4 linked regions of the Homo sapiens genome follow. The protein of the gene in region 2 purifies or fractionates together with the protein of the main gene of each other region. This does not show direct contact. Each region holds a gene or a part of one and is shown on either strand. Other genes may lie near its edges. The genes, in order: UXS1, DPEP1, FASTKD2 and ALG6.

Region 1 (7,023 bases), on a different chromosome or scaffold from region 2:
TGTTTGAAAAAACTGTCCATACTTCCCAATTATATACACCCTCACTGTTAGCCAGCCTCCGTTGCAGAAATGCCCTCCCTGTTTCGGGAACAGAACTCAAGTTCTGTTAGCCTTTCTCCTTCTCCTCCTTACATCTTTCCCAAAGTCTTTGTTACCTACTCTGGCCCTGAGTCTCCTCCTTGATACCACATAACTCTTCTTCATGTCTTAGGGTTGACCACCTGCTAACTTGCATTGTACTTGAGTTCTTTCCCATTCATATGTTGGCTTTTTTTTCTCAATGAAATCCCGATTCTGAGGACAGGGATTGTGTCTTATGTGTTTCAGCCCTTGAAACATTTATAGCAGTGCTAATGGCTCATTGAAAGAACTCAGTTTCTGCCCTTTGTGCTGAATCAAAAATCAGGCCAACCTACTAGGTAGCTCCTGGGCAGACTGCTTGAATTACCTTTAACGTATTTTTTTTTAACATGCATATAGTGTAAAAAGTTAAATAGCTTCTGCAGGGCCAAACAGTATCCCCTGCCACCATTTCCCTCTCCCCAGAAGCAGGCACTTCATTTCTTTTTTTTTTTTTTTTGATACAGAGTTTCGCTTTTGTTGCCCAGGCTGGAGTGCAGTGGCGTGATTTCGGCTCACTGCAACCTTGGCCTCTTGGGTTCAAGCGATTCTCCTGCCTCAGCCTCCTGAGTAGCTGGGATTACAGGCATGCGCCACCACGCCCGGCTAATTTTGTATTTTTAGTAGAGACGGTTTCTCCATGTTGGTCAGGCTGGTCTCAAACTCCTGACCTCAGGTGATCTGCCTACCTCAGCCTCCCAAAGTGCTAGGATTGCAGGCGTGAGCCACCGCACCCAACCCCTAGGCATTTCACTTCTTTTAGTTGATTATTTTGGTATTTATCATTGTGCCATTGAATCACCTGGCTTCCTGATTTTTCAGTTGTAGATATTACCTAGTGACTTTGTTCTTTGGGAGATGATTTTTTTCTTCTCTTTGCCCCTGTACATGCTCTCCACCCTCCTATATAGATGTGGTATAATCTCACGGAGCTCATCATGCAGTGTTTACAAGCATGACTATGTAAATGCTGTTCCTAGTGAGTCATGTTGTAGGTTACTTTTTGTTTTCTCCAGCGAATAATTGGCTGGTGTTCTAATTTGCTTGCTTTCTATGTAGTATGACAGATCCAACTCCAAACTCTTTGCCAGTTGTCTGTCGCGTCTTCCCCCATGATGTTCATGAGCATCAGGATGCCCCTTGGTCAGCACCCCTTCCTGAAGAAGGGCCCCGGGGCCTTCTACTGCAACTTGTGGATACATCTGAGGGTCAGCTGCCAGCCTCACCACCTGCACCCACATCAGCCTGGACCTACCCACTGCAGGACTTCTGTTTCCTGACTTCCTCTTCCTGACTCCCTCTTGTTTCACTCCCTGGTTTGGATGTGATGGGAAGTGAATTCTGAGACTTTACCCATAAGTATATTTTCTGCCTTCATGTCTGATAGATTGATAGTGTAGAATTATAGAAAAAAAGTTCCTTTAGAATTTTTGAAGCATTGGTCCAATCCTTTTTGGCCTCCAGTATTGTTGAAGAATTTCAAGCCAGTCCTTCTCTTTCTGAAGATTGTAGCATCTTCCTTTCGGGTCTAGTTGTCAGTGCTCGCCACACATGTCCAGCCCCCTGTCCCCCAGGCTCTTGGTAGGATTGCCCTCCCTTCCTCACTCCCTGAGCTTGATGGCCTCACATGGTTGTTGTGCCAGTGGCCTGCCCAGGAGCTGAGCGGAAGTGCTACTTCCACTTCTGGGCCTGCACTTCGCTGCGAGTGTAAGTTGCTGCCAGAGTTTTCCTTCCCTCTAGTTAGGTTCTGAACTCAGCTTGACAATGATGATACTCAGCTTGCAGAACCCCCTCCCACCCATGCTATGACCCTGTTCGATTGAAATAAACTTGAAGAATAAATCTTGGTTGTTGTAGGCCTCTGAGGGCTTTTGGGCTGCTCATTGCTGTAGTTTAACAATGCCTGCCCTGACTGATACATCCGTGGTGTTCCAAGATCCACAGTGCTAGGCCTTGGTGTATTTTATCCAGCATGTTGGGCATTTTTTGTGCCCTGGCAATCCAGAAACACTTATTCTTCAGTTATGGGAATTTTCTTGAATTATTCTTTGGTGATTTTCTCCCCTCCCATTTTCTATTTCATCTCTTTCTGGGACTACTACTATTCTGATATAGGATTGCTGGACCAATCCTCTTATTTCCTATTTTCTACCATTTTAAGGTTGTTGCACTTTTGGGACGTCTCCTCATTTTTGTATTTAGACTCTTCTAGTGATTTTTTTACATTTTATTTTTGCCATACTTTTTCATGTATAAGAGTTCTTTTTTGTTCTGTGAACTTTTTTAAAAAACTAAAACATGGTCTTCATTTCATGGTATATTCTCTGGATTTTTAAAAAATTTGTTTTCTTTTCTCTTTACTGAAGGATCTCTTTCCTCTAGGCTGCCTTCCCGTTTCTGTGTGAGGCTCTCCTCAGATGGCCTGCCCATGTTTAAGAGTGGGGGACTCTGTAGGGATGGGCACTGCCTTCTGTGAGCTGAACCTTTCCTTGTTGGGGCCTTCTGACCTTAGTGCTGCGGGTTGGTCCTCCCGGGCTATTGTCACAAGACTCTCCCTGGTCCCTGCAGGAAGGGGAGGCTTGGCTGCCTGCATCCTGGAGCCCAGTGAGCGAGGGCTGTAGCCTAATCAGTAACCTGATTGTCCCAGGGGGATCTGGGCTCCTCTGTCAGAGACCCTGATTCCACCCTCTCCAGAGATGGAGCCACCTGTCTTCTGCCAGGGTGGGACAGGAGCTGGAACTTGTCCTGCTTCTTAGATGTCTTTGAAAATCAGACTTCCTGTCTCTGCTGCCTCCACACCCATTGCAGATGCTCCAGGCCTGGCCCAGTTCTTGACCCTAAGTATAAATGGGCCATTCCACTGCCCGCCCACGTCCGTGCCCTCTCCATGTCCCCATATTCACCTATCTTCTTTTTCCTATCCAGTAGCATTTTGGTGCCTGTTCTCCCTTCCCCTTCTCCCTGTCCACGTGGATTGATTCCTTAAACAAGAACAAAAAAGAAGTCAGGGAGGAGGGATATGGAGAGAGGGGCAGGGAGGAAAATAGATTGCCTATATTCAAAAAAAGAAAAGAAATCAAAGACAAAAGACATTTTCTGATGTTTTAGTCGGGTTTAGGAGCCATTATCTTTTCACCTTTAGCCTTTGAAAGTTAGAGTTAAGGCTGGTCGCGGTGGCTCATGCCTGTAATCCCAGCATTTTGGGAGGCCAAGGCAGGTGGATCACCTGAGATCGGGAGTTTGAGACCAGCCTGGCCAACATGGTGAAACCCCGTCTCTAGTAAAAATACAAAAAATTAGCTGGGCATGGTGGCGGGCGCCTGTAATCCCAGCAACTCAGGAGGCTGAGGCAGGAGAATCTCGTGAACCCGGAGGCGGAAATTGCAGTGGGCCAAGATCGTGCCATTGCACTCCAGCCTGGGCAACAAAAGCGAAACTCCATCTCAAAAAAAAAAAAAAAAGGAAATTACAGTTGTGACATTGTGACATCTAGTAACATTTATGTAATTTTTGGTGTATTGTGGATTTTGTTGTAGTGACATTTTAGTTGTGGTACCTTTCTTTCCTGTCAGTGTTACTTAACAAGAAAAGAGATAAAACCTGAAAACCATATGAAAGAGTGTTTTATGTGTCTTAGTTTTGTGTTTATGGTAATAGACTTCAAACTTCCCTGAGGTTGGGACTTTGGTTACGGTACAGTTTTGCCCTTAATATAATCAGCTCCCACATGATCGGCAATTGCCCTCATAAATTCATTCGGGACACAATTGTTAGCCTCTGCCTTGGAGGATGTGCAGCAAGTTAGATATCACTGTGACGCCAGAGGACCCTGGGGGACAGCAGACAGCTAAAATCCAACAACCTAGTACCGGTGGCATTCCCAGGCTGACCCGAGCGTGAGATCAGCTTGGGCTTGTCAAATGCAGGTTCCTAGGATCCTCCTAGGCCTGTAGGAGCCTGAGGGTTGGAGGCACAAGCTGGAAATTGTGAATTTTCAACATTTTCAAAATTTCCTTTCAGATTTTCTATCTTTTCTACTAAAAGAATATTTTAGTGAACACCCAAATACTCTCTGCCCAGATTCACCAGATGCCTACATTTTTTTCCACATTTTTCTTTTTCTTACTTTTTTTGTATATATTTTATATATACTTTTTTTGTTGAAATATTTGAAAGGTGCAGACGTAACAGTACTTCACCTTCAAGTACTTTACATATATCTCCTAAGAATAAAGGTATTCTTCTATATAATCTCATTACCATTATCACTCCCTAAAAATTAACAAAATAATATCTAAGATATAGTCTATATTTAAATTTCCCCCCATTGTACCATAAATGACTGTGATAGCCTTTCTGAGATTTTTTTTTTGCTTCTGTTTTTTTGAGACAGGGTTTCAATCTGTTGTCCATGCTGGAATGCAGTGGCATGATCTTAGTTCACTGCAGCCTCAAAATCCTGGACTCAGGTGATCCTCCTGCCTCAGGCTCCTGAGTAGCTGGGACTACAGGTGTGTGCCACCACAGCCAGCTAATTAAAAAATTTTTTTTTGTTTAGTTTAAAATCTAGGACCCAGTCAAGATTTACATGTTGCATTTGGTTTTATGCCTCTAAATTTCTGGAGCCATAGTAGCCTGATTTTTTTTTGTTTGTTTGATTGTTTCTCATAACATTTACCTATATATGTGTGTGTGTGTATATACATATTTACGTATATTCATGTATATGTGTGTGTGTGTGTGTGTATATATATATATATAAAAGCCCAGAGCAGTTTTCCTATAAATGTCCCACATTCTGGATTTGTCTGATTGTTTCCTTATGATTAAGTTCAGTTAAACATTTTTATAACAATGCTTGCTAATTGGTGTCGTTGGGAACATGTAGTGTCTGGGCTGGTCCCACTTGACACTGTTCAGTGTGACCCCTGGAAGGAATGGCCTCTATGCTGCTTCATTTTGAAGGTACATTTTTGCAGTATGCAATCTGTGGAGTGATTCTTGCCACCTGTGCGAATATCTTGTTCTCCAGCCAGTGCATTTCATGTCCATTGACGATCCTTGCCTGGACCGATTTTTCTGTTGGGGATTGCAGTTAGTGATTTTCTAATTTTGTAAATCTTTTGATAGTTATTAACTGGTGGTGTTTTGAAAAGAACTTTCCCTCCCTTTTTCTTCTCTCACTGTATTAGTTTCCCGTGGCTGCTGTAACAAATTACTCCAAATTAGGTGCCTTTGAAACAAGAGATATTTATTATTTCTAAATCTGGTGGCCAGAAGTCTGAAACCAAGGTGTTGGCAGGGCTGAGCTCCCTCGGAATGCTCCTCTGTGGCTCCAGGGTTTCTTGTCTTTTGCCTGCACTGCTCCAGCCTCTGCGGTGACATGGCCTCCTCCTTTTCTGTCTGCTAAATCTCTCCTGGGTGTTTCTTATAAGAACATTTGTCACTAGATTTAGAGCCCAACTGGATAATCCGGGATGATCTTTTTGTCTTGAGATCTTTAATTACAGCTAAAAAGACCTTTTTTCCAAGTAAGATAACAATCACAAATTCTAGGAATTGGAATGTGGACATATTTTAGGGGGCACCGTTAAACTCATGGTGATCTTTCTTTAATCACTGTGGACCCGTAGCTTCTTTTAGTCTTTGAGCACTTCCTTAATGTCTAGATGTTTCAGGCTCATTTTCTTTTTCTACCCCAAACCTGGAATCAGCCTTCTCTCCAAGGAGCCAGAATTGAATGGAATCATTGGCCACTTGCTTGGTGTCTAGAGAGTGGGAGAATTGGTTGGTAGTATGGGAAAAGCACACACACGTGGTATCAGAAGTGTTCTGTAGGTAGAAACAGGGTTTAAGACTTGGGCATCTTTATTTTCAACAATTTTCCCATTTTCCACCATAGTTCCTAAGAAAATGGACAAGGTAAAGTAGTCAAGGTAAAGTGCTGAGTACCATGAGAGAAATGAGATCTGGGACTTGGAGAGAATGGGATGCCCTTAAGACCTGGGGCATTGAGTTGGCATTTAGCAGAAGGATACAATTTGGGCAGTGGAGTTGAAGGTGAAAGTGATGGAATGAGCAGAGGCTGGAGTGACACAATGCCAGGAGCAGGAGTCTTTGTGGCCCATAAAGGCAGAATGTGGAAGTCTGACCTGACATAAACTTGATTTAATGACATGAGTAAGCCCTCCATAAGAATTTGTGCAGCATGAGAGAGATTTTGATGAACATGCCTGAAGTGTTCAGACATTAGGGCAGGGCAAAGTATAATCAGTTTTGCATTTTGGGGTTGGCCCGTGTGGCCTGAAATGTGCTTTGTGGTGTGCATGTCTCCTGAGCTGCCTACCTTTTGTAGATATGTGACTGGATTCTAGTCCTGGTATATGATATGTATGGTACTTCTGTACAGGCCAGTGCTGTGATCTGAATGTTTGTGTCCCCTGGAATTCACATGTTGGAACCTAATCCTTGAAGTGATGGCATTAAGAGGTGGGGTATTTGGGAGGTGATTAGGTCAGGAGGCAGAGCCCTCATGCATGGGATAGTGTCTTTGTAACAGAGGCCCAAGGGAGTTCATTCCTCCCTTCCACCATGTGAGGATACAGCAAGAAGGCACCGTCTGTGAATAGGAAGTGAGCCCTCACCGCCAGTGTCTTGATCTTGCACTTCCCAACCTTCATAACTGTGAGAAACAAATTCCTGTTTATTAGCCACCCACTGTGTAGTATATTTGTGATAGCAGCCTGAACATGGACTAAGACAGCTGAGAAGTCAAGAACATGTCTGATGTGAAGTTGGAGAGCTTTCACAAATAGATATGTTGAATAGGTGAGGCCAGTTACCAGATTCTTCATGTGTACTGAACCCACATTAATGTCTACTGCAAATTTCTTGTCTTGCTTT
Region 2 (7,376 bases):
TCAACCCATGTAATCCGCCTCGGCCTCCCAAAGTGCTGGATTACAGGCGTGAGCCACCTGCCCAGCCATGTTTATTTTATTAGTTTATAAATTTATTTAAAACAGAGATGCAGCCGGGCGCAGTGACTCATGCCTGTAATCCCAGCACTTTGGGAGGCCGAGGCGGGCGGATCACTTGAGGTCAAGAGTTTAAGACCGGCCTGGCTGGCCGGGCGCAGTGGCTCACTCCTGTAGTCCCAGCTACTCGGGAGGCTGAGGCGAGAGAATGGTGTGAACCCGGCAGGCGGAGCTTGCAGTGAGCTGAGATGGCGCCACTGCACTCCAGCCTGGGCGACAGAGTGAGACTCCGTCTTAAAAAAACAAAAAAACAAAAAAAACCACAGCCTGGCCAATATGGTGAAACCCCGTGTCTACTAAAAATACAAAAATTAGCCAGGTTTGGTGGCTCATGCCTATTATCCCAGCTACTCGGGAGGCTCAGGCAGAGAACGGCTTGAACCCAGGAGGTGGAGGTTGCAGTGAGCCGACATCACACCACTGCACTCCAGGCTGGGTGACAGGGCGAGACTCTGTTTAAAAAGCAAAACAAAACAAAACACAAATGGGAACGTGCTGGGCTTACAGACGTGAGCCACTGTGTCCAACCCATGGTTTTTTTTAACCATTATCCTCCAGATGGGCCCTGGAGGTTCACACTCTTTCCCTCTTATACATGTGTTGGTTTATTGTCTTATGTTATCACCTTTATTTACCTTTGAAATCTTTATTGTCACTTTGGTTAAACAGATAACGAAATATTGTTTCACGATGACATATGATCCTATTTTATTTAAGTTTTCAGATCTTTTGACATCTTTGCCAACTTCCCAAAATCAGAATCAAATTCTAAATTAAATCTTCTTGACCTCAAACGGACTTTGAAGTTTTCTAGAAGGTCCCTGGAAAATCTCAAAACTCAAATCCTTTGAAACTGTCAAATCTTTGAAACTGACAGTTTCAAAGGATTTGTTCTACCACCTTGTTAAAAGGGAGATGTTAAACTAATTCAGTTTATTTGATATATTCAATTACATGGGAAGCATTGTCAAAAGACACTTAACTTTCCATACATTATATTTATATAGTTAAAATGTTGCTATTTCAGAAATTATATAAATGTCCTAAAAATTTGTCAATGCCCTTGTTATCCGATCTGTTCGCCTCTGTTACTGTTCATGATTTCAGTTGTTATTTAATACGTCGTGTGTCACAAAAACAACCAGAATTCATTGTGTGTTGTTTTTATAATGAACTCTCATCAGATCTTTCATTATTTTCAGGTTCTTTTTTTTTTTTTTTTTTTGAGATGGAGACTCGCTCTGTCGCCCAGGCTGGAGTGCAGAGGCACGATCTCGGCTCACTGCAACCTTCACCTCCTGGGTTCAAGCGATTCTCCTGCCTCAGCCTCCCGAGTAGCTGGGACTACAGGCGCCCGTCACCACGCCCGGCTATTTTTTGTATTTTTAGTAGAGACAGGGTTTCACCATGTTGGCCAGGCTGGTCTTGAACTGCTGACCTTAGGTGATCCACCCGCCTCGGCCTCCCAAAGTGCTGGTATTACAGGCGTGAGCCACCGTGCCTGGCCCATAATTTTTTTTATTTTTATGTATTTGTTTATTTTGAGACAGAGACTCACTCTGTTGCCAAGGCTGGAGGGCAGTGGCACGATCTCAGCTCACTGCAACCTACACCTCCTGGGTTCAAACACTTCTCCTGCCTCAGCTTCCTAAGTAGATGGGACTGCAGGCGCATGTCACCACGTCTGGCTAAATTTTGCATTTTTAGTAGAGATGGGGTTTCACCACGTTGCCCAGGCTGGTTTCAAACTCCCGACTTCAAGTGATCCGCCCACCTCGGCCTCCCAAAGTGCTGGGATCACAGGCATGAGCCACCGTGCCTGGATAACTGTACTTATATTTTTATAGAAGCTTTATTGAGACAATTCACACACCATAAAATCCATCCCTTTAGTGTGCACAATTGAATGTTTTTAGAATATTCAGAGTCGCACAGCCATCACTACTATTTAATTCCAGATTTTTAATTTAAAAATTTTCATTGCCCTCGCAGGGCACAGGGGCTCACGCCTGTAATCCCAGCACTTTGGTGTTGTAACCAAGCGAGTTATAGAGAAACACCACACTTTGAGACAAATTAAGGAGTCCTTTATTAGCCTGCGACCGAGAGGCCGCTAATGCTCAAAATTCTCTCGGCCCTGAGGAAGGGGCTAGCTTTGTTTGTATACCGTGGTCTAAATGGGGGGGGGGAGTTTAACTGAAGCAATTTTTATAGAAGCAGAACTGGCAAAAAGTTAAAAAATTAATTGGTTACAAATGCAGTTACAAAAAATAAACAGCTCCAGGTGCAGGGGCTTAAACTATCACAAAGAGATAAATGCAGGGGCTTCGGGTGCCATCCACCGAGCGCGTCCCGAGGAGCTGCTGGTGCAGCTTGCCTCAGTATCTTATCAGTAGGTGCATTCCCAGACGTGCTTTGAGTCAGTCACACTAGTTAAGCCTTAAGGGAGGGAGGTGAAGGGGGCTGCAGGTGAAGAAACTAAAATGGAGTCTGTCCGGCGCTCTCTCTGCTACGAGAAGGTCACTTAGGTTAAAACAAGGTTGGGTATCACACTGGGAGGCCGAGGCGGGCGGATCACGAGGTCAGGAGATCGAGACCATCCTGGCTAACACGGTGAAACCCCGTCTCTACTAAAAAAGAAATACAAAAAATTAGCCGGGCGTGGTGGCGGGCGCCTGTAGTCCCAGCTACTCGGGAGGCTGAGGCAGGAGAATGGCGTGAAGCCAGGAGGTGGAGGTTGCAGCGAGCTGAGATCGCGCCACTGCACTCCAGCCTGGGCGACAGAGCAAGACTCTGTCTCAAAAAAAAAAAAAAAAAAGTCATTGCCCCAAATAGAAACCCATTCCCATTAGCACCCACTCCCCACTTTCCTTCACAGCCTCAACAACCATGAATCCACCTTCTGTGTCTATGGAGTCACTTATTCTGGACATTTCATATAAGTGGAATCACACGACATGTGGTCTTTTGAGTCTAGCTTCTTTCTTTCTTTTCTGAGACAGGCTCCCACTCTGCGGCCCAGGCTGAAGTGCAATGGCGTGATCGCAGCTCACTGTAACCTCAGTCTCCCAGGCTCAGGCGCTCCTCCTGCCTCAGCCTCACAGCAGAGACCACAGGTGCGCACCACCACACCCGACTATCTGGCTTCTGCCACTTAGCGAAATGTTTCTGAGGTTCTTCATGTTATAGCACGTGTCAGCACGTCACTCTTCTTCATGGCTGAGTAATACTCCACTGCGTGAAGAGACACATTTATCTGTCCCCGTGTTGGGCATCTGCACTCTTCCCACATTTTGGCTATACTAAATTGTCCTGCTACGAACACCTGTGTAGTTTCTGTGTAAAGGTACAGTACCTATATGTTGGGGTGATCAGACCCAACCCCAGGTCGTGGGGGTGACAAAGTCCGGCGGAGTCAAAGGATTCAGAAAAACACAGAGAGAGAAAGGTGGCACACCAGGGGGCCATCGCTATTGTGGAGGCTGCAAAAGCCCGAGCTCTGGGAGCCCACGGTATTTATTGGTAATGCAACAAAGAAACAGATGGTGAGAATATGGAGGTCAAAAGACCACGTTGCATTAAGCACATGATTACAGCTGTGCCGGTTTAGCATTTATATGGAGCATGTTCTGCTACTTGAGATAATGGGAATAGGGGCCTAGGAGGGCTAGAAGGAAGGAGCCAGCAAGTCTAGACACATTCCAAAGGACATCATGCAAGCCCTGCCTCAGTTTCCCTCCCAACACCTATATGTCTTGTTGGTATACATGTTGTATTTTCACAACGAAAATGCATGAGAAAAAGGACACAGATGGCTTATGTGTACTGATGTGTAGCATTCTCTAAGATCTGACATCACAGAGCTGGACAGCACAGCTGTGCACGCACCCCCCTGGCTGGGAGGTGGCACATCCACACATGAGGGAAAAACACTGCCAGGACATCTCAGGGCACTCTCAGGAAATGAGGAAGCTGCTGGAGAAGTTTCTAGCCTTGGGGGAGGTCAGGACGCAGAGCCATCTCCTGGAGCAAAGTTCCCTCCTCCTCTCTCCCTCCTCCTCTCTCCCTCCTGCAGCCCTTCCTTCCGACCCCTGGCCCTTTCTCTCCAACCTTCCCCTCCCCTCCTCCATTTCCCTCCTCTTTCTACTTTCAGAGAACACAGGGTTCCTGCAGGAAATGGGGCAGTTTCACCTTCCTGAGGAGGGGCCTGGGAGGGGCAGCAGGTGGCCGGGTAGGGCCAGCCCAGCTGTGAGCCTGGCGTGGGAGCTGCCTAGGCCGGGCCCTGCCAGGGAGCAAGTCTGCATCGCAGAGGCCAGGGTGAGTGGGCTGGGGAGTCGGTGCGCCAGGGTACTGGGGTGCCCACCTGGGGTGGTGCAGGCCCGGGGACCCCAGGGCACCACTGTGGGTGGAAGCTGGGACCAGGCGTGCGGGGCAGGGGACGCGGCGGCTTCCTGGGATTCTAGGAGGCTGAGGCCAGGTGTGTGCGGCAGGGGACGGGGCGGCTTCCTGGGATTCTAGGAGGCTGGGACCAGGTGTGTGGGGCAGGGGACGAGGCAGCTTCCTGGGATTCTAGGAGGCTGGCACCAGGTGTGTGGGGCAGGGGACGCGGCTGCTTCCTGGGATTCTAGGAAACTGGGGCCAGGTGTGTGGGGCAGGGGACGCGGCTGCTTCCTGGGATTCTAGGAAACTGGGGCCAGGTGTGTGGGGCAGGGGACGCGGCGGCTTCCTGGGACTCAAGGAGGTGGGAGAGCTGCTCTCAGACCCGCCGCTGTCCTCCCACTGGCCCTCCCCGTGGTCCCTAGGATGAGGTCTGGACCCGCCAGGCCCTCCAGAGGCCCCACAACCCCGCTTGTCCACTGTGCCGGCTGTTCCTTCCTTGTGGCGCCCAGTGCGGTCCTAGGCACCCTTGGGACTCAGCTCACGTACCCCTTCCTCCAGGAAGAGTTCTCAGAGGCTGTGTGAGGAGCGCCGAGTCCCCGGACTTACTCTCTGTTCTGGAATTCTCTGCGCAGTCATCTGCCTTCCCGCCCAGCTAAGAGCAGGGCCTGTTGTCCGGCCCCACAATTTCCTTCCAGGTGGAAAGGATTTGCTGAATGAAAATCAAAGCTGTGGCCGGGCGCGGTGGCTCACGCCTGTAATCCCCACACTGTGGGAGGCCGAGGTGGGCAGATCATGAGGTCAGGAGATCGAGACCATCCTGGCTAACACGGTGAAACCCCGTCTCTAATAAAAAATACAAAAAATTAGCCGGGCGTGGTGGCGGGCGCCTGTAGTCCCAGCTACTCGGGAGGCTGAAGCAGGAGAATGGCGTGAACCCGGGAGGCGGAGGTTGCGGTGAGCTGAGATCGTGCCACTGCACTCCAGCCTGAGTGACAGAGCGAGACTCCGTATCCAAAAAAATAAAAGAAAAATCTTCTCCCCGGGTAGGGTGCGGGGAGCTTCAGGGTTATCACAGGACATGCTAGAGAGAAAGCCTTGGGCACAGGCGGAAGTTGGAGTCTGGAGCTGCGGCTGGGCTAGCGAAGGGCAGAACCTACTTCGGCCAATGGCTCTTACACAGCCAAGCTATTTTCATGGTGAGGGTCTAGTAGCCTCCACATCTCTTGGCGAATTCTTGCTGATTGGCGTCTGACCCCATGGAGAAGCTCAGTGGGTGTCATGGGTGGAAGGGGGCATCTAGGGCCTCCAAACGTGGAAGTGTCTCTAAAATACCTCCCGCTGGGCCTCAGTCTCCTTGTCGACAAAAGGTCAGCTTTGACAAATCTCCAGTCGGAGGCCAGGAGCAGACGGGGAGGGTCCCTCAGTCCCTGCTTGCAGCTTCAGGGGGACGTAGGCTGCGGTGGACGGACACTGAGCCCCAAAGCGGCCTCTCAGAGCCGCCCCTGAGGGGTGGCCTCACAGGTCGGGCTGAGGCTCCCAGCTCCCACTGGGTACAGAGCGGGCAGGCGGGCCTGGCAGGGCAGTGGTGCTGGTCTACACGCAGCTCTGGAGTCTCTGGACCTGTGTCCTGTGCGTACATCCTGGCTCCATCTCCCATGAGCCAGGGGGCTGGACCTGTCTTCTCTACCTCAGTTTCCAAGAGTAGGAGACAGGGGTAACAGCAGCCTTGCTCTCAGGGGTGAGGGCGTGGGTTAAAGGGCAGGACACCCATGGAAGCAGTGGTGGCTCCGAGCACCTGCTCAGCCTTCCCAGGTCTTCAGAGCCCACAGGCAGAGCCCACCCTGAGGGAGGAGCAGCTGGTTCTTGGGTGAAGTGAGCCCCCAGGACCCCGCCTTGCAGGACCCCGCGAGGCCCCGGTGAACTGGAGCCGGGAACCGGCCCCACGGAGGCACGTTGGGATTTGGCCACCAGAGGGCAGGAGCTGCAGCAGCCAGGCAGGCGGTCAACACGGGGGCCCCGGGGTCCTGGCCGGCTGGTGGGGTGTGAATTGGAGAGGAGTGGGCTGTGTGGAGGGAGACCAAGCACCAAGGCCCGCCCTGGCCTCTGAGTGTCCACCCCTTTCACAGGCCCATTTCACAGATACTGAGGCCCAAAGGCGCAGGGCTCAGGCGTCCCCTACGTGTCGTGTCCCCAGGCAGGAGAATTACTTGAACCTGGGAGGCAGAGGTTTCAGTGAGCTGAGATCACACCACTGCACTCCAGCCTGGGTGACAGAGCAAGACTTCATCTCAAAAAAAAAACACAAAAAGTGAATTTAAAATGCTCCCTGAACTCCAGCTGGGGTGCGCAGCAGGAGGCTGGGTCCGTGGGGCTTCGGGGGCTGGGCTGGGGGTTCAGGTGGGTGGGGGAGTCAGTGCTGTGGGGATAGGGCTCAGAGCCCAGAAACAGACAAGCCCACACAGGTAGCCAGTGTCGACGAAACAGGAGAGGCTGGGACCTGTGCCCTGGAAGGACACAGCCAGCGGGTCCTGGGTCACCCACTCCGGGGCTGACCGGGCACAGTTTCACAGAGCAGTATGGCCCAGCCAGCTGTGAGAGGATCGGACAGACGGGCGGAAAGGAGGGGAGACAGCGGGTGTGCTCGGGGCTGTGCCGGGAGGGGTCCTTGGATGGAGGAGGGGGTCGCCAGGAGGCATCTGCATCCCCGGGGTGGTGAAGACCCAGCGTGTATGGCCGACCTCGAGGACAGGGCGATTGCTCCACCAGAATGTTCCCAGATGGCACAGATGCTTCTGGTTCTGGCACTGGGACCTGCAGCAGGATTCCCGGGTGGCTTAAAGAGGTTCCTTGAAGTTTGTGATCAGGAATTCAAAGTAGCG
Region 3 (7,023 bases), on a different chromosome or scaffold from region 2:
ACACACATAAATATGATAGAAACATACAAAAAAATCTGTAGGGATCCAAGCTCTTATCTGCCCATCCCTCTTCATTCACACACAGTTCTGTGACTTTCACCTCTTTCTGAATGCATCTAGCTTATTTCTTGGCCATCTTTTCAACCGCTGTCTTTCCTATTAGTGCTACCCATCTCCCCTCAGAAGAGGCTTTCTCTCTGACCTCATTCCAAGATCAGTTTTCTTTTTCGGGTACTCCGCTATTCTGGCATAATAAAATAACAGTTGTTCTCAGCATAAAGTCATGAGAAGTGAAGAATGTGAGCATTCCTTTAAAAACATAAAATTTGTCTTATAACAGCCAGAGTATAGGTGAAGGCAGTAAGGATATAAATGTCTTTTTTTTTTCTTTTTTTCTCCCAGTAAACTTAGTATTTCCAAAGTGCCAGGAACAATGAAAAAACAAATTACACCTTCCACATTTTCGTTATATTTACAGATTTTATTTTAACAGTCTTGCCTTTCTCTTGGTGTTTTCTTTCTTGTATTTAAACTCCTATTTCTGTTTTTTAAATGCTGCTTTCTCTGGGAGATGATATGTGTAAGAAGAGCATTTACTATTTGGTATTATTTACACCGTTACTACTACTGGTAGAATAAATAATTATACTCAGATCAGAAATCAGCACTACACAGAAAACCCTTAAAATTGGTGCTTTCATGTCTGAAAATTTTCCTCTTCAAAAATGTAGCCATCCTTAAAGGGAACTGAGAGGTAACTGTGTATAATGTTGTATATTTTTGATTTATAAAGTAGCCTTGTATAGTGGAATATCTGCAGAGGCCAAGTAAAAGAAGTGAAGGACTAAGACAGGAATATCAAGGATTGTGGTCGGTGGAGAGCTCAACTTGGAAATCTCCAGAGAACAAGAATGCAGCAAGACTAAATAGTAATATCAATAACTGTTCTTGTTTTGTTTATTTTTGTTTTCAGAGTAGCTGTGCTATGTGTTTCCAGATCTGCTTATTGTTTGGGTTCAAGCCACCCCAGAGGATTCCTTGCTATGAAAATGCGGCATTTGAATGCAATGGGTTTTCATGTGATCTTGGTGAGAAAAAAATGCAAATGAAATATTCTTTAATTACTGATGTACATTCTAACAGCTGCCAGGAATCTTGTGGTTGAGACTGGTTACTAGGACTAGAGGAATTGTCAGCATTATTGGAATGAGTGCTTTAGTTACTGTTTTCTTTGAAAAAGAACATTGCTAGTACACGATTTGGGTTCTGCTCAGCTGATTACTGTCATTACTAGAGCTTTTACAAATGTTGTTCTGGTCAGCTTTAATCCTTTTTTGCTAAGAAGAAGAATGCAAATAATATATTTTCATATTTAAGATACACAAAACCATATTTAATTTCCAGGTTATCTTGAACAAGGGAAGGAAAGATGTTAAAGCTTTGTTTTCATGGCCTGTGTGAAGCTGTTACAGGATGTTTGTTGCCAGAAAAGGCTGGATGGTTTTAAGAAGATGGGTCTTTCTCTTCCCTCTTATGCTTCAATTTTATTTTGTACCCCACAGCTTCTCTTGAACAGCCTCTTCTGATGTTTCTAGGTAGTAGGAACCTTACAAATACATTTATATATATGTTGCTGTTGGAATCTATCTAAATGCCACTCATTTGGTCCTGCGCATAATGTAAGATGTAAACATTCCAAGTCTTCTATTATTATACTTTAGTATTGGAAATGGATTACGTGTGGACTATTGAGATTAAGATGACTCCTTTCTCTTAGTGGGCTACTATTTAAGACTTTGTTTTTTATATTGCTGATTATATATATTCTAAGGAAGATTTTCTCAAGAAAGCAGTTTTTGCACCATTTAGAGGACCTTTAAAATTTGTATAATTTTCACAGTTAAAGCTTTCTTAAACCCTAGCATGTAGTCTTATTATGCCTTTAAAATATGAGTAGTTATAAGGTCACATTTGCTTTCAAAAAGCTATTGTCCTCATGTTACTTTACTATGTTTGGATCTCTAAACTAGCTCTTTTGTTAGTATCGTCTCACAAACTGATTATTTTCCTCTTTCTTTGGTAAGGTCAATAACTGGGAGATGGACAAACTAGAGATGGAAGATGCAGTCACATTTTTGAAGACTAAAATCTATTCAGTAGAAGCTCTTCCTGTTGCTGCTGTAAATGTGCAAAGCACACAATAAAGTGAAAATCAACCTTTTCATATTAGGAGACATGCATTTGTAAAAATTAATAAAGATGACAAGTCAGTTGTCAATGGAATTGAGCTATCTGCTAAGACAAAAAATGTTACCTCAGTTCACTATTAAAATTAATTTTAGGAGTGGAAGAAATGTTGTTACTGCCATTTAAAAATATGCTGAGAAAATTCCAGAAGGGTTATTTTTCCAACCACACCTATTCCCTCTAGTGCCCAGATATTTGATTTGTGAGCTGTACGTTTCACCTTTTCATCTTTGATCTACTAAAAACTGGTTTCTTAGTTGTGAGGTGTCACAGGCAGGTTGATGTGGGTAGTAGTCCTTGTCTTTGGAATCTGAATATTTATACTCCTGCTCTAAGCTGTTCTAAGACTTGGGGTTATGCCTTTAAATCATTTTCAAGCATTGGCCAAATAATAATTGGACAAAGTTCTAAAGTTGTCAAGTGTGTAAGAATTAGTGAGGTAGCTGTTGAAAATGAGTGAGGATGGTATTTGTATTTGTAATAAGCACTGCAGGTAGAGATATTTCATGGGTTATAATAAGAGAAACACAGATGAGATGTAGATGGTAAGGAGTCTTACTGTTGTTGGGGTCCTTCCTTTCTCTTTCTTTTTTCCCCCTTACCCCTCCCACAATTTCATGAAGTCTTTTAAATTAAATATATAGCTGAATTGTGTTGTGAATCAGACCTGAGGACTATTTTTTCGATTATGTGTGTTCATTCTTTGTTCAAATATTTGTCCAAATTCAACTATTTTGTTCAATATGCCTGTCTACCTAGTATTTGGCTCGCTGGGGATATAGTGATGAATAGGCATGGTCTCTTGTGGAACTTACAGCATGGGTTCCATGCAAGTTGGTGTTATTCTGCCCCCAAGCACACAGACATGCAATTACTAGACATCTTAGTATGTGCCGGGCACTGCTAAGTATTCATTTGTGTGCTGCCTTTTCATGATCTGAACCCTTTGAGGTGTAGCTGCTATTATGATTCTCTCTGTGTCTTCACTTCCTCATCTCTAAAATCAGGATAGGTATTTGCCCAAGGCTACACAGAGTAGGGGAGGGCTGGAGTTTGAATGTGAGCTAACATAGGCTTATAAGAAAATACAAAAACTGGGCTGGGCACGGTGGCTCGTGCTTGTCATCCCAGCACTTGGGAGGCCGAGGTGGGCTGATCATGAGGTCAGGAGGTCAAGACAATCCTGGCCAACACGGTGAAACCCCATCTCTACTAAAATACAAAAAATTAGCCGGGCATGGTGGTGCATGCCTATAATCCCAGCTACTGGGGAGGCTGAGGCAGGGGAATCGCTTGAACCCGGGAGGTGGAGATTGCAGTGAGCCAAGATGGTCCTGCTGCACTCCAGCCTGACCACAGAGCGAGACTCTGTCTCAAAAAAAAAAAAAAAAAAAAAAAAAAAAAAATACAAAAACTATAGCAATATGACAACAGCTGCCAGGTTGTATCAATTTATCCAGCTTGCATTTAGAAAAGGTTAGAGCTGAAAGGAAATTTAGTGATTATTTAATTGTTACTTCCCTCATTTTATGGACGAGGAAGATAAGGCTCAAAGAATTTTCCTTTCCTGAAGTCTCAGCTATGCCATTGGTTCCACATCATTTCATCCTCACCTGCTCTTCAGCTTGTGTCCCAGGAGATCAGGCTTCTGGTTCCAGATTGGACAACCTCTAGTTTTGTATACTTGGCCAAGTGATTTAACCTTATAAGCTTCAGAACAAGATGCAGATATTCTGTTATTAAAGGAACTAAGGTTTTGTCTTTAAATGTTGAGTGTGCATCAGTTTTGAGTGTCTAATTATGACTCCTCTTCAAAGGATTTGACAAATTTGTGAATATTTATGACCACCTTTTAGGGTAGTAATTTTCAGTTTGTACTAGTTAACCTGGCAGATAAAAAGGCATCCCTCTTTTACTAGCATTCTAGTGTTAGCATTCTTCATTGCTTTGTGTCAATGAAAGAAAAATGGGCAAAGAGCTGATGAACATGAAAAAAGTTCAGTCTACTTGTAAAGACATGCACATTGAAACAGAAGAGATGGTTTTGCCTTTCAAATTAGCAGTTTTTTTTCTTTTAAGAATTACAGTGCTGATGAAGGTATAATGAGGCAAGCACTTGCATAAGCTGTTGGTAGACTGTAAATTAATACCTTTCTGGAATGTACTTTGTGGGGTTTTCTTCTCCCATAATTTAAAAAATAGCTTTATTATAGTATAATTGACATACAGTAAACTGCATATATTTAAAGTGTACCGTTAGGTCAGTTTTGACGTACATACACACACACACACATCTGTGAAACCACAATCAAGATAATGAATATATCTATCACCTCTAAAAGGTTCCTGTCTTTGCTTTTTTCTCTGTCCCCTAAACAACCACTGATCTATGGCACACATAGAAAAAAATTAGGAAATATATTAAATGCTCATTTTGTGTGAGATATCCAAATATTTTTTTCAGAATCCCTAATGAAAAGGTTGATCTTGCTCTAGATACAAGATATAAAATTGTATTCTTGAAATAGCTACATGCAATTCTTTTTTATTATTTTTTAATTTTAATTTTTAGATTTTTAAAGATGGGGCCCTGCTATGTTACCCAGGCTAGCTTCAAACTCCTGGGCTCAAGGGATCCTCCTGCCTCAGCTTCTCAAGTAGATAGGACTGATTATAGGTACAGGCTACTGTGCCCAGCTCAATTCTTGATTGAGACATTTACCAGCTCTCCGAATTCTCAGTAGTTACCACTGAATAGAAACTTTCTTTACACAAAGCTGATTAAACAGTTTAGAACTTTTAAAAAACATTCAAAAATTGAAAATTTCATATATACATAGCCTAACAACTCTTCTTGTCATTGACAAAATGTGATGGTATTTTTTTTGTGATAATACACATGGACCTCAAATGCAATTGAACTATTCATATCAAGTATTTCCAAATAACAATGACATTCCAATTTATAGAATGTCATGTGTTGTGAGGGTAGTCACCCTGCAACTGGCTTGGACATCTCTAAGCAAATAGAAGTTTCTGTAAGATAGAGATTTGGGGCATCTACTTGGAACTACCTATGAGGAGCTGGCATTCCTCAAATCCCAACTGACTGCACTTTTCCATGAAATTACCCAGCAGTTATGATGGTCAGTGGCTCACTCAGCAGCAAGCCACTTAGGTAGCTGGCGAGGGACGTGGCACAGCCTTGTCTTCACACAGCACATCACAGCCAGGCAGCAAAGGACAGATCTCTCTCATACTCTTCATTCACAGGGCCTGAGAGGTGGACCATCAGACTCCACCCTGTTTTGCGCTGACTTGTAGGGAGACCTAGGTGTGGAGCTTCCTGGCCAGGAGGGCAGTGGCTGCCCAGAAGGCAGGAGATGGCTATCTCTTTTTTTTTCCTGAGACGGAGTCGTGGTCTGTCGCCCAGGCTGGAGTGCTGTGGCGTGATCTCAGCTCACTGCAAGCTCCGCCTCCTGGGTTCAAGCCATTCTCCTGCCTCAGCCTCCCGAGTAGCTGGGACTACAGGTGCCCACCTCCATGCCCGGCTAATTTTTGTATTTTTAGCAGAAACAGGGTTTCACCATGTTAGCCAGGATGGTCTCGATCTCCTGACCTTGCGATCTGCCCGCCTTTGGCCTTCCAAAGTGCTGGGATTATAGGCGTGAGCCACCACCCCCGGTCCAAGATGGCTATCTCTTAACACACTTGTAACCCATTTGTGCACACAGGTGTGCCGTGACTCACTGGTGGATCCAAAAAAAGCTGAAGCCTACATTTCCCAGAGCCCCTTTCAGCTTGAATTCCAAATGTGACTTAGCTTCCTCTATGCAGATGTACCTACTTGAAACTGGGAAGGCCAAATGAGATAGAGGTAATGTTTCTGCCAACAAACAGCCACAGAGCATTTTATTTTTCTAGAAGAGCAATAACAGAGACCCCAGGGTGTGGTGTGGCAGGACGAGGAGCATCCATTTTGCTGGTGGGGATTGTGGCTAAAATAATGTGGCTCTGGAGCCAGCAATGGGCAGCATCTTCATGACTTTCCAGCTTCCAGGCTGTAAGCAGAGATAGCATCTCTTCTGGACAGCCAGTTATGTGATAGTGTTCTGAGAGTCATTCCTGGAAGTCAGACTAAAGGCTGCTCCTTCAGCCTTTCCATTCATCTTGTAAGCAGGAGGCTTCTGTGCATGGCCAGAAACTAACAAAAGCACATTGTGTCTAAACTAGGTTGCAGTGGTTTCTGTTATCAGCAAGTAAATCCTGATTGATAAAGATACTACAATATATGCACATATATATGTTATAGAATCAATAAAAATTGGATACTTTGCTTTAAAAGTTTGTGAATTTTGCTTTTAAAGAATTTCCCTCAGGGCCGGGCACAGTGGCTCACACCTGTAATCCCAGCACTTTGGGAAGCCAAGGCAGAAGGATCGTTTGAGCCCAGGAGTTTGAGACCAGCCTGGCAACATGGCAAAACCCCACCTGTACAAAAAATAGAAAAATTAACTGGGTGTGGTGGCATGCACCTGTGGTCCCAACTACTCAGAAAGCTGGGGTGGGAGGATCGCCTGAGCCTAGGAGGTCGAAGCTGCAGTGGGCCAAGATTGTGCCACCGCACTCCAACCTGGATATCAGAGTGAAACCATGTCTCAAAAAAGAAAAAAGAATTTAAAAAGAATTTCACTCAGGGTTACAGACACTTAATGTTATTAAGACCCACTAGGAACACCTGTGTATACTGCTGGCTGGTTTTACATGTCACCCCAC
Region 4 (7,699 bases), on a different chromosome or scaffold from region 2:
CCACTGAGAGGCAGAATCTATTTCCACTCTCCTTGTATCATGGCTAGGTTGCTGTGTGACTTGTAAGGCTGGGGTGTAAGAGATCTGCAACTTTTGCCTTTGCCGCTTGGAATGCTCTCTCTGGGAAGTGAGCTGCCGTGTAAAAAGTTTGCGAAACTTTCTGAAGAGAGAAGCCCTGTGGAGAGAGGGCTGAAGCTGTTCACGGATGTTTCAGCCTGAGCTGATCTCCCAGCTGAATGCAGCCTCATGAGTGACCTCAGACAATCCCAGTGGAACAGATGAACCACCTACCTGAACCCTGCCTAGATTCTTGATCCATAGAAACATGAGCAAATAAAATCATTGCTATATAAGCCGCTAAATTTTGGAGTAATTTGTTACACAGCAGTAGATAATTGAAGCCATCACCTATTAGTCAAACTGACTTTAGAGATTAATAGTATTCATTTCATATTCTTTCCCATCTGCCTTTAAAATGCACCAACTTTTTTTTTCTTTTTTTTTCCCAATGGAGTCTCGCTCTGTCGCCCAGGCTGGAGTGCAGTGGTGCGATCTCGGCTCACTGCAAGCTCCGCCTCCCGGGTTCACACCATTCTCCTGCCTCAGCCTCTCGAGTAGCTGAGACTACAGGCACCCACCACCACGCCCGGCTAATTTTTTTTGTATTTTTAGAAGCGATGGGGTTTCACCGTATCTCCTGACCTTGTGATGTGCCTGCCTCGGCCTCCCAAAGTGCTGGGATTGCAGCCGTGAGCCAGCGGGCCTGGGCAACAACAACTTTTTTTTTTTTTTTTGAGACGGAGTCTTGCTGTGTTGCCCAGGCTGGAGTGCAGTGGCGCGATCTCGGTTCACTGCAAGCTCCTCCTCCCGGGTTCACGCCATTCTCCTGCCTCAGCCTCCCGAGTAGTTGGGACTACAGGCGCCCACCACCATGCCCGGCTAATTTTTTTTTTGTATTTTTAGTACAGACGGGGTTTCACTGTGTTAACCGGGATGGTCTCGATCTCCTGACCTCGTGATCCACCCGCCTTGGCCTCCCAAAGTGCTGGGATTACAGACGTGAGCCATTGCGCCCAGCCAACAACTTTTAAGATGGATTATACATTAGTGTAATTTGATTTCAGATAATTTTTTTTTATTTTTTTGAGACAGGGTTGTGCTCTGTCACTCAGGCTAGAGTGCATTGGTGCAATCATGGTTCACTGCAGCCTCAACCTCCCTGGGCTCAAGTGATCCTCCCATCTCAACCTCCTGAGTAGCTGGGACTACATAAGCACACCACCACACCTGGCTAATTTTTATATACTTTTTGTAGAGACAGGGTTTCGCCATGTTGCTCAGTCTGGTCTTCAACTCCTGGGCTCAAAGGATCTGCCTGCCTCAGCCTCCCAAAGTGCTGGGATTACAGCTGTGAGATACTGTGTCTGGTCGTGGTTTCAGAGAAAATTTTCAGATAAGAACAGTAGGCTTCTGGTGGGGATGCAAATATATATATGTATGGGCTGCTATATGGTAGGAGGAAGAAGACACTTCAAAGAAAGGCTATGAAAAAGTGAGCACATGTTAAAGACAAATGATAATAGCTATTATTTATTGATTGCATACTATATGCCAGGCAGTATATTCAAGTTTTATATGCATGATTTCATTTTACTCTCATTAAAATTCAAAGAAGATGACATTATTATTAATTCTTTTTTTTTTGTAGGTGAAGTAATTATGCCAGAGACATTAGGAGACTTTACCAAGTTCACACAGCTAGAAAGTAGAAGAACTAAGATTTAAATCCAAACCTGTTTGTTTTCAGAGTCAGAGACTAGTTCTTAATCACCTTTCTACACTGCCTCTAAACTTGATCTGCTTTACAATTTTGCTATGGCTTATCCTTTTTGCTTATAGTAAATGCTATCATTCAAAATGCATTTTCTGAACATCTGTTATGTAAAGGCACTGGATATTCACATGTGAAAGATGATACCTATTGAAGGTAAAGAGCAGGAGAAGGTATATAGATGGCAGTGGTGAGACAATTCAGCTATGAGTTAGTGACTGTGATGTCTCTTCCGCTATTTATTCATGAACATTTTGAGCATTAACTTTTTGTTAAATACTGGGTCAGAAGCTGTTGGGTTGAGAAACAGGAAGGAGAGATTGATACCAACTTCCATCACTTTAAGATGTATACTTTTTACATATTAATATTTCTGAAATTATATGTTTTACAGTAATTACTAGCTTAAATGGTAGCATTGTTTTCTTCCTCAGTGGTACATAAAATAATGGTGCTTTTTACAAGTGGTGGAACTTTAGATTCAATAAAGTATGATTTTTGGTCTGCCAAACATGGTTCTTGTTCACCAGATGCTTAATATTTATGATCCTGCAATGTAATGGATTTCTCCCTACATTTGTAACCATGTAACATCCTTCACCAATGTGCCTTTCTCCTTTTGGCCTGAGATAATGCATTTATTCAAGTATGGTTGTTTATTTTCTCTCTATACTGTCTCCATCATTATTCAGCAAATGAAACACTTTCATCTCTCTATCTTCACCCCAATTTCTTTCCTGGGCTCTGATTCATAACTGACACCTGAGTATTACAACTTTCTTGTCTTTATGTTACCGTGAACTCAATACAATGAACCATCTTTCCCTCCAAGCCAGATTATTCTCCAGGCTTCCCAAGATCTATCAGTTCTTGGGAACTGTAATGCACACTTGAAACCTTGGGAGCCATCCTTGATTCTTCCCTCTCCTTTGTTTCACTTGTACATATCTAGTATGCTATTAAGACCTGTACACGAGGCCAGGTGCAGCAGCTCACGCCTGTAATCCCAGCACTTTGGGAGGCCGAGGCAGGCAGATCACCTGAGGTCAGGAGTTCGAGACTAGCCTGACCAACACAGAGAAACCCTATGTCTACTAAACATACAAAATTAGCCAGGTGTGGTGGTGCATGCCTGTAATCCCAGCTACTCGGGAGGCTGAGGCAGGAGAATTGCTTGAACCCGGGAGGTGGAGGTTGTGGTGAGCCGAGATCGTGCCATTGCTCCCCAGCCTGGGCAACAAGAGAACAAGAGCGAAACTGCGTCTCAGAAAAAAAAAAAAAAGACCTGTACATGTTTCTTCTTGCATTGATCTCTCCCTTTGCAGTTCCACTATTGCCATCTCAGTCCAAGCCCTTGTCTAATCATGCGTGGACTGCTATAGTCTCCCTCTGATTCATCTGATCCATTTTCACCACTTTAAGTTTTCTCTAACACTGTAACTGTACTGTATACTTGACTCCCTGCTAAAAGTCATTTAATAGCCCCTTACTGATCACTGGATACATTCCAGACACCATAGCCTGGTATTCAAGGCTCTCTACAATTACCAGTCCTTTCCAGCTTCATCACCCACCACCTAAACTAGAGGAAATGTTCTACACTTTTCAGCTGCCACAATATTTGGCTTGAACCATTTCCTTTGTCTAGATTCTTACTCTCATTCTCTGGGCTTATCCAGCCAGGCTTTCCTTCAAAGCTCAGCTGACTCCTCCAGGAAAAGCATTTCCTGATGGTTTGCAGTTTACAGTGAACCCTCTTCTCCTAACTCCTACAGTGCTTAGTGCATATGTAAGTAATGTAACATTTAGTATGTGTTTCCTTCTATAGCTTTTTATCCTTTTATGCATAAAAATGTCTTTCCAATGAGAATTAAATGCCTTGAGGGCAGGGACCTGCCATATTTCTCCATATTCCCAGTGCTGATGGTCTTTTAGATATAATCATATTTTAGACCTGGAAGTTCACCTAGCCCTACTGATTTCTTTCACAGTTGAAGAAACTGAGGCCCAGAGAGAAGTTATTCAGACTCAGTAGAAAGCCATAGTCCTAGCCAAATATTTGCTAACACTTACAAATTATAGGGGTTGGCTTACGTAGAATGGCAAGATTCAGAAGTGGGGAATGAGGGCACTCTCTGAACAAAGGAAGGCAAGTAAAAATCATCACAGCCGTCCATGCGTGATTGGACAGAAGCCTAGACTGAGATGGAAATAGTGGAACTGGAAAGGAAGGGATCAATGCAAAAGGAAAAGTGTGCAGGTCTTACTAACTTACTAGATAGGTATTTTTGGCAAGTTTGGGACCAGGTGATTCAAGCTGCCCGCTGGGGCACGTGTAGTGGCTACTCGAGGGCAGGGCTGTCCTTTTGCACAACGCACAGGCTCTCGCAAATGGTTGGATGTTCAATGTTTCTTACTTTAGGGGGCTGCCCAGTCTTCTTCTTCGCAGGCATGTGGCTAGAAGAAAGTGAAGCAGGTTGGCTTTCTGGCTCCTCGAGGGCACAGGCCCAGAGGTGGTGAGGACCGGCCAAGGCTCTCTGCTCAGTGCAGCAAGCCAGGGCCCGCCCCTGACAGGAATCCGTTGGCTAAGCAGCCGCTCCGGCCTTGGCCACGATCCCAGGAAAGAAGAGCAAGGGGCTTTCCACCTGCCCCTAGCCTAACCCGGGGCTGGGGACCTCTCGGGTTCCATCGGCTCTTGCCCCGCCTCCTAAGCCGGCCGCCTCCTGTCCAGGCCAGGTTGCCCGCCCCTCCCCTCACGCTCGACGGGCTCGCTCCCGCACCGGGCGCGCGGGTGGTGCGCGGGCACACGGAGGCGGAAGGCCGGAGGGGCAGTCCGCCGCGGGGGCGAGCGCGCATGCGCCTTCCTGGGACCCACGGCAGGCGCGAATCCCAGCGGCCGGCGGGCGGCGGGGTAAGAGCATGGGATCCCGGAGGTTCCGGACCCCAGGCCAGTGTGGGGAGGTGCCGGGGGCTCGGACGCGCCACGAGCCGGCGCAGAGCTGGCGACCCGTCTCCCAGCTCCGCTCCACTCCCAGGGACGCGACGCGAGGCCTCCCCAGCCCTTCCTGCAGGGTCGCTTGTGGGTCGGGTGAGGGGACGCGGTGATAGTGGTGGCACTTGCAGGCTGGGGCGGTCCTGGCACCCTTGTCCTTGCGGTTCTGAGGGCCTGGCCCTCAAGAGGAGGGGCGGAGAAACGCGAGAAGGGATCCCTTTCGCCCCATATACACGCCCGGGATAGCTGCACTCCCCGGTGTTGTGTCCACTGCGGTGGAAGGACCTTTCAGACTAAAAGGAGCAAAGTCGGTTCTGGGATGGGGACGGCGGGCTTGGCATTTGTCGAGATGCACCGTCAGGGCAAAGGAGGACGAAAAGCGCATCTACTGCCTGCCTAGCAACTTCGTGGCCAGTGGATGGGTTAGAAAATTACTGTTTTCTGATTTACAGGTGGAAAAAGTCGCAAATAACCCTTTTTCTGGTTTAAGCAGAAGAGAGTCGTTAAAAGCCTCGCATAATATCTTTAACCACACAGGGCTCAGTAAAATTAGGGTACCTCCCCGCTTCGTACACACAGACGCACACAGCTCCATTCAGCAAATACTTCTTGGGTACCTGCCTTCTGCTAACACTGTTCTACAAGTGGGGAACAGAGAGCAACGACTAAGACAGGAGGATCCCTGCTCACAGGGAGCCTTTAGTCAACACATCCAAGTAATTTCCTTTTACACTTTTTTTTTTTTTAATTGAGACAGAGTCTTGCTCTGTCGCCCAGGCTGGAGTGCAGTGGCACGATCTTGGCTCACTGCAACCTCTGCCTCCCGGGTTCGAGCGATTTTCCTGCCTCAGCCTCACGAGTAGCTGGGATTACAGGAACGCACCACCACGCCCAGCTAATTTTTGTATTTTTAGTAGAGATGGGGTTTCACCATGTTGACCAGGCTGGTCTCGAACTCCTGACCTCAGGTGATCCACCTGCCTCGGCCTCCCAAAGTGCTGGGATTACAGGGGTGAACCACTGCGCCCAGCCCCTTTTATGCTTTTTAAATTGGAATATACCATATAGAAAAATACTGTACGCAAATTATAAGTTGTAACTTGTTAATTTATCCTAAAGTCAACACATTTCCTAACCACTACTCAAATCAAGAAGGAAGATTCACAGCATTTCAGAACACCTCTCTGGGCACCCCTCCCAACCACCATCCCTTCTTTCCTCCCCAAAGGTAACCTCTTTCCTGATTTTTAACACCATAGATTAGTTTTGCCTATTTATGAACCTTTCATGGAACCATATGATATGTATTCTTTGGTGTCCAGCATTTATACTGAAAATTATGTGTGTGAGATTGCACCATGTCATGTGAAAATACAAATCCTGTTAGTGAAAAGAATTAGGAAGCAAATTGAAGGTAATGATACAAACAGTAAGGGGAGGAAGCTTTAGTAGGATAGTCAGGGATGATCTTTCTGAGGGGATGATTTGAGATTTGGCATCAATGACAAAAGATTAGCCATTCCAATCAGTTCTGGAGTTATCCCGTGATGTTTTTATTTTAAATAAGAAAATAATTAGGGCCGGGTGCAGTGGCTCACGCCTGTAATCCCAGCACTTTGGGAGACCAAGGAGGGTGGATCACCTGAGGTCAGGAGTTCAAGATCAGCCTGGCCAATCTGGTGAAACCCCGTCTCTACTAACAATACAAAAATTAGCCAGGCGTGGTGGTGGGTGCCTGTAATCCCAACTACCTGGGAGGCTGAGGGAAGACAATCGCTTGAACCCAGGAGGCAGAGGTTGCGGTGAGCCGATATTGTGCCATTGTACTCCAGCCTGGGCAACAAGAGCAAAGCTCCATCTCAAAAAAAAAGAAAAAAAAACAAATAAAATAAAATAATTTTAGATCATTAGGTGGAATGTACCAATTTTGCCCTAAATTTTTTAGTTGATTTATTATATTTTCTGAATATATTTAAAGTGTATCCTGTGGTTAAAATGGTCCAACATTTTTCAAAGAGAAGAGGAAAATGTCAATTTTGTCGATTTGCTTTTTATTTTTTTTTGTTTGAGATGGAGTTTCGCTCTTGTTGCCCAGGCTGGAGTGCAATGGTGCGATCTCGGCTCACTGCAACCTTCACCTCCTGGGTTGAAGCGATTCTCCTGCCTCAGCCTTCCAAATAGCTGGGATCACAGGCGAGCGCCACCATACCTGGCTAATTTTGTATTTTTAGTAGAGATGGGGTTTCACCATGTTGGTCAGGCTGGTCTTGAACTCCTGACCTCAGGTGATCTGCCCACCTCGGCTTCCCAAAGTGCTGGGATTACAGGCGTGAGCCACCGCAACCGGCATCAATTTGCTTCTTACTTTAAAACCCCAACCTAAGGAAAACTGTAAAAAAAAAAAAAAAGTAAGTGGTTAATTGAGTTTTACTGCTTTTGTATTTTTTTCTCACGATTTGGGATTATTCTTAATGATTCTTAAAAAGGCTCATTTCTCTAAGATGGAAAGTTGGTGTGGTTAATGCAAGTATATTTTGGAAGAAAAGTAAAAACCAAACTAGATAAATTGTTTATTGGAAGACTTTCCCAAACTAAATACAAAGACAAGATTCCTCTTTCTCGCTGTACCAAAGATAAATCATGCCTTTGTCTACGGTTGTGGTTTTATATTTACCTGTAGGTGAATGTGTTCTAAATAGAATTGACTGTGTCATTATCTACATATGTGTTGTTTTTCTTTTCTCAGAAATATTCCCTTGTGAGAGTAAATCTTTACTATATCTTTAGATGTATTGAGTCCCATTTAATAGGGAGATCCACCTTTTGATGTATATTCCCAACTAAAGGACTAGGGAATAAGGAACTTAAAATACCAC

Evidence for each region.
Region 1: the proteins of DPEP1 (region 2) and UXS1 purify together in Homo sapiens (affinity purification with mass spectrometry; 2 studies listed by BioGRID and IntAct, with this or other methods). This does not show direct contact.
Region 3: the proteins of DPEP1 (region 2) and FASTKD2 purify together in Homo sapiens (affinity purification with mass spectrometry; 2 studies listed by BioGRID and IntAct, with this or other methods). This does not show direct contact.
Region 4: the proteins of DPEP1 (region 2) and ALG6 purify together in Homo sapiens (affinity purification with mass spectrometry; 2 studies listed by BioGRID and IntAct, with this or other methods). This does not show direct contact.

Annotation. Positions count from the first base shown.
Region 1 is NC_000002.12:106,184,301-106,191,323, reverse strand, and holds part of UXS1 (UDP-glucuronic acid decarboxylase 1), read left to right. Parts: intron 1-7,023. UniProt on the Homo sapiens protein: Catalyzes the NAD-dependent decarboxylation of UDP-glucuronic acid to UDP-xylose. Necessary for the biosynthesis of the core tetrasaccharide in glycosaminoglycan biosynthesis.
Region 2 is NC_000016.10:89,609,286-89,616,661, forward strand, and holds the start of DPEP1 (dipeptidase 1 isoform a precursor), read left to right. Parts: upstream 1-4,356; 5' UTR 4,357-4,434; intron 4,435-7,376. UniProt on the Homo sapiens protein: Hydrolyzes a wide range of dipeptides including the conversion of leukotriene D4 to leukotriene E4. Hydrolyzes cystinyl-bis-glycine (cys-bis-gly) formed during glutathione degradation.
Region 3 is NC_000002.12:206,789,599-206,796,621, forward strand, and holds the end of FASTKD2 (FAST kinase domain-containing protein 2, mitochondrial), read left to right. Parts: intron 1-973; coding exon 974-1,088; intron 1,089-2,084; coding exon 2,085-2,204; 3' UTR 2,205-6,591; downstream 6,592-7,023. UniProt on the Homo sapiens protein: Plays an important role in assembly of the mitochondrial large ribosomal subunit.
Region 4 is NC_000001.11:63,362,946-63,370,644, forward strand, and holds the start of ALG6 (dolichyl pyrophosphate Man9GlcNAc2 alpha-1,3-glucosyltransferase), read left to right. Parts: upstream 1-4,681; 5' UTR 4,682-4,742; intron 4,743-7,699.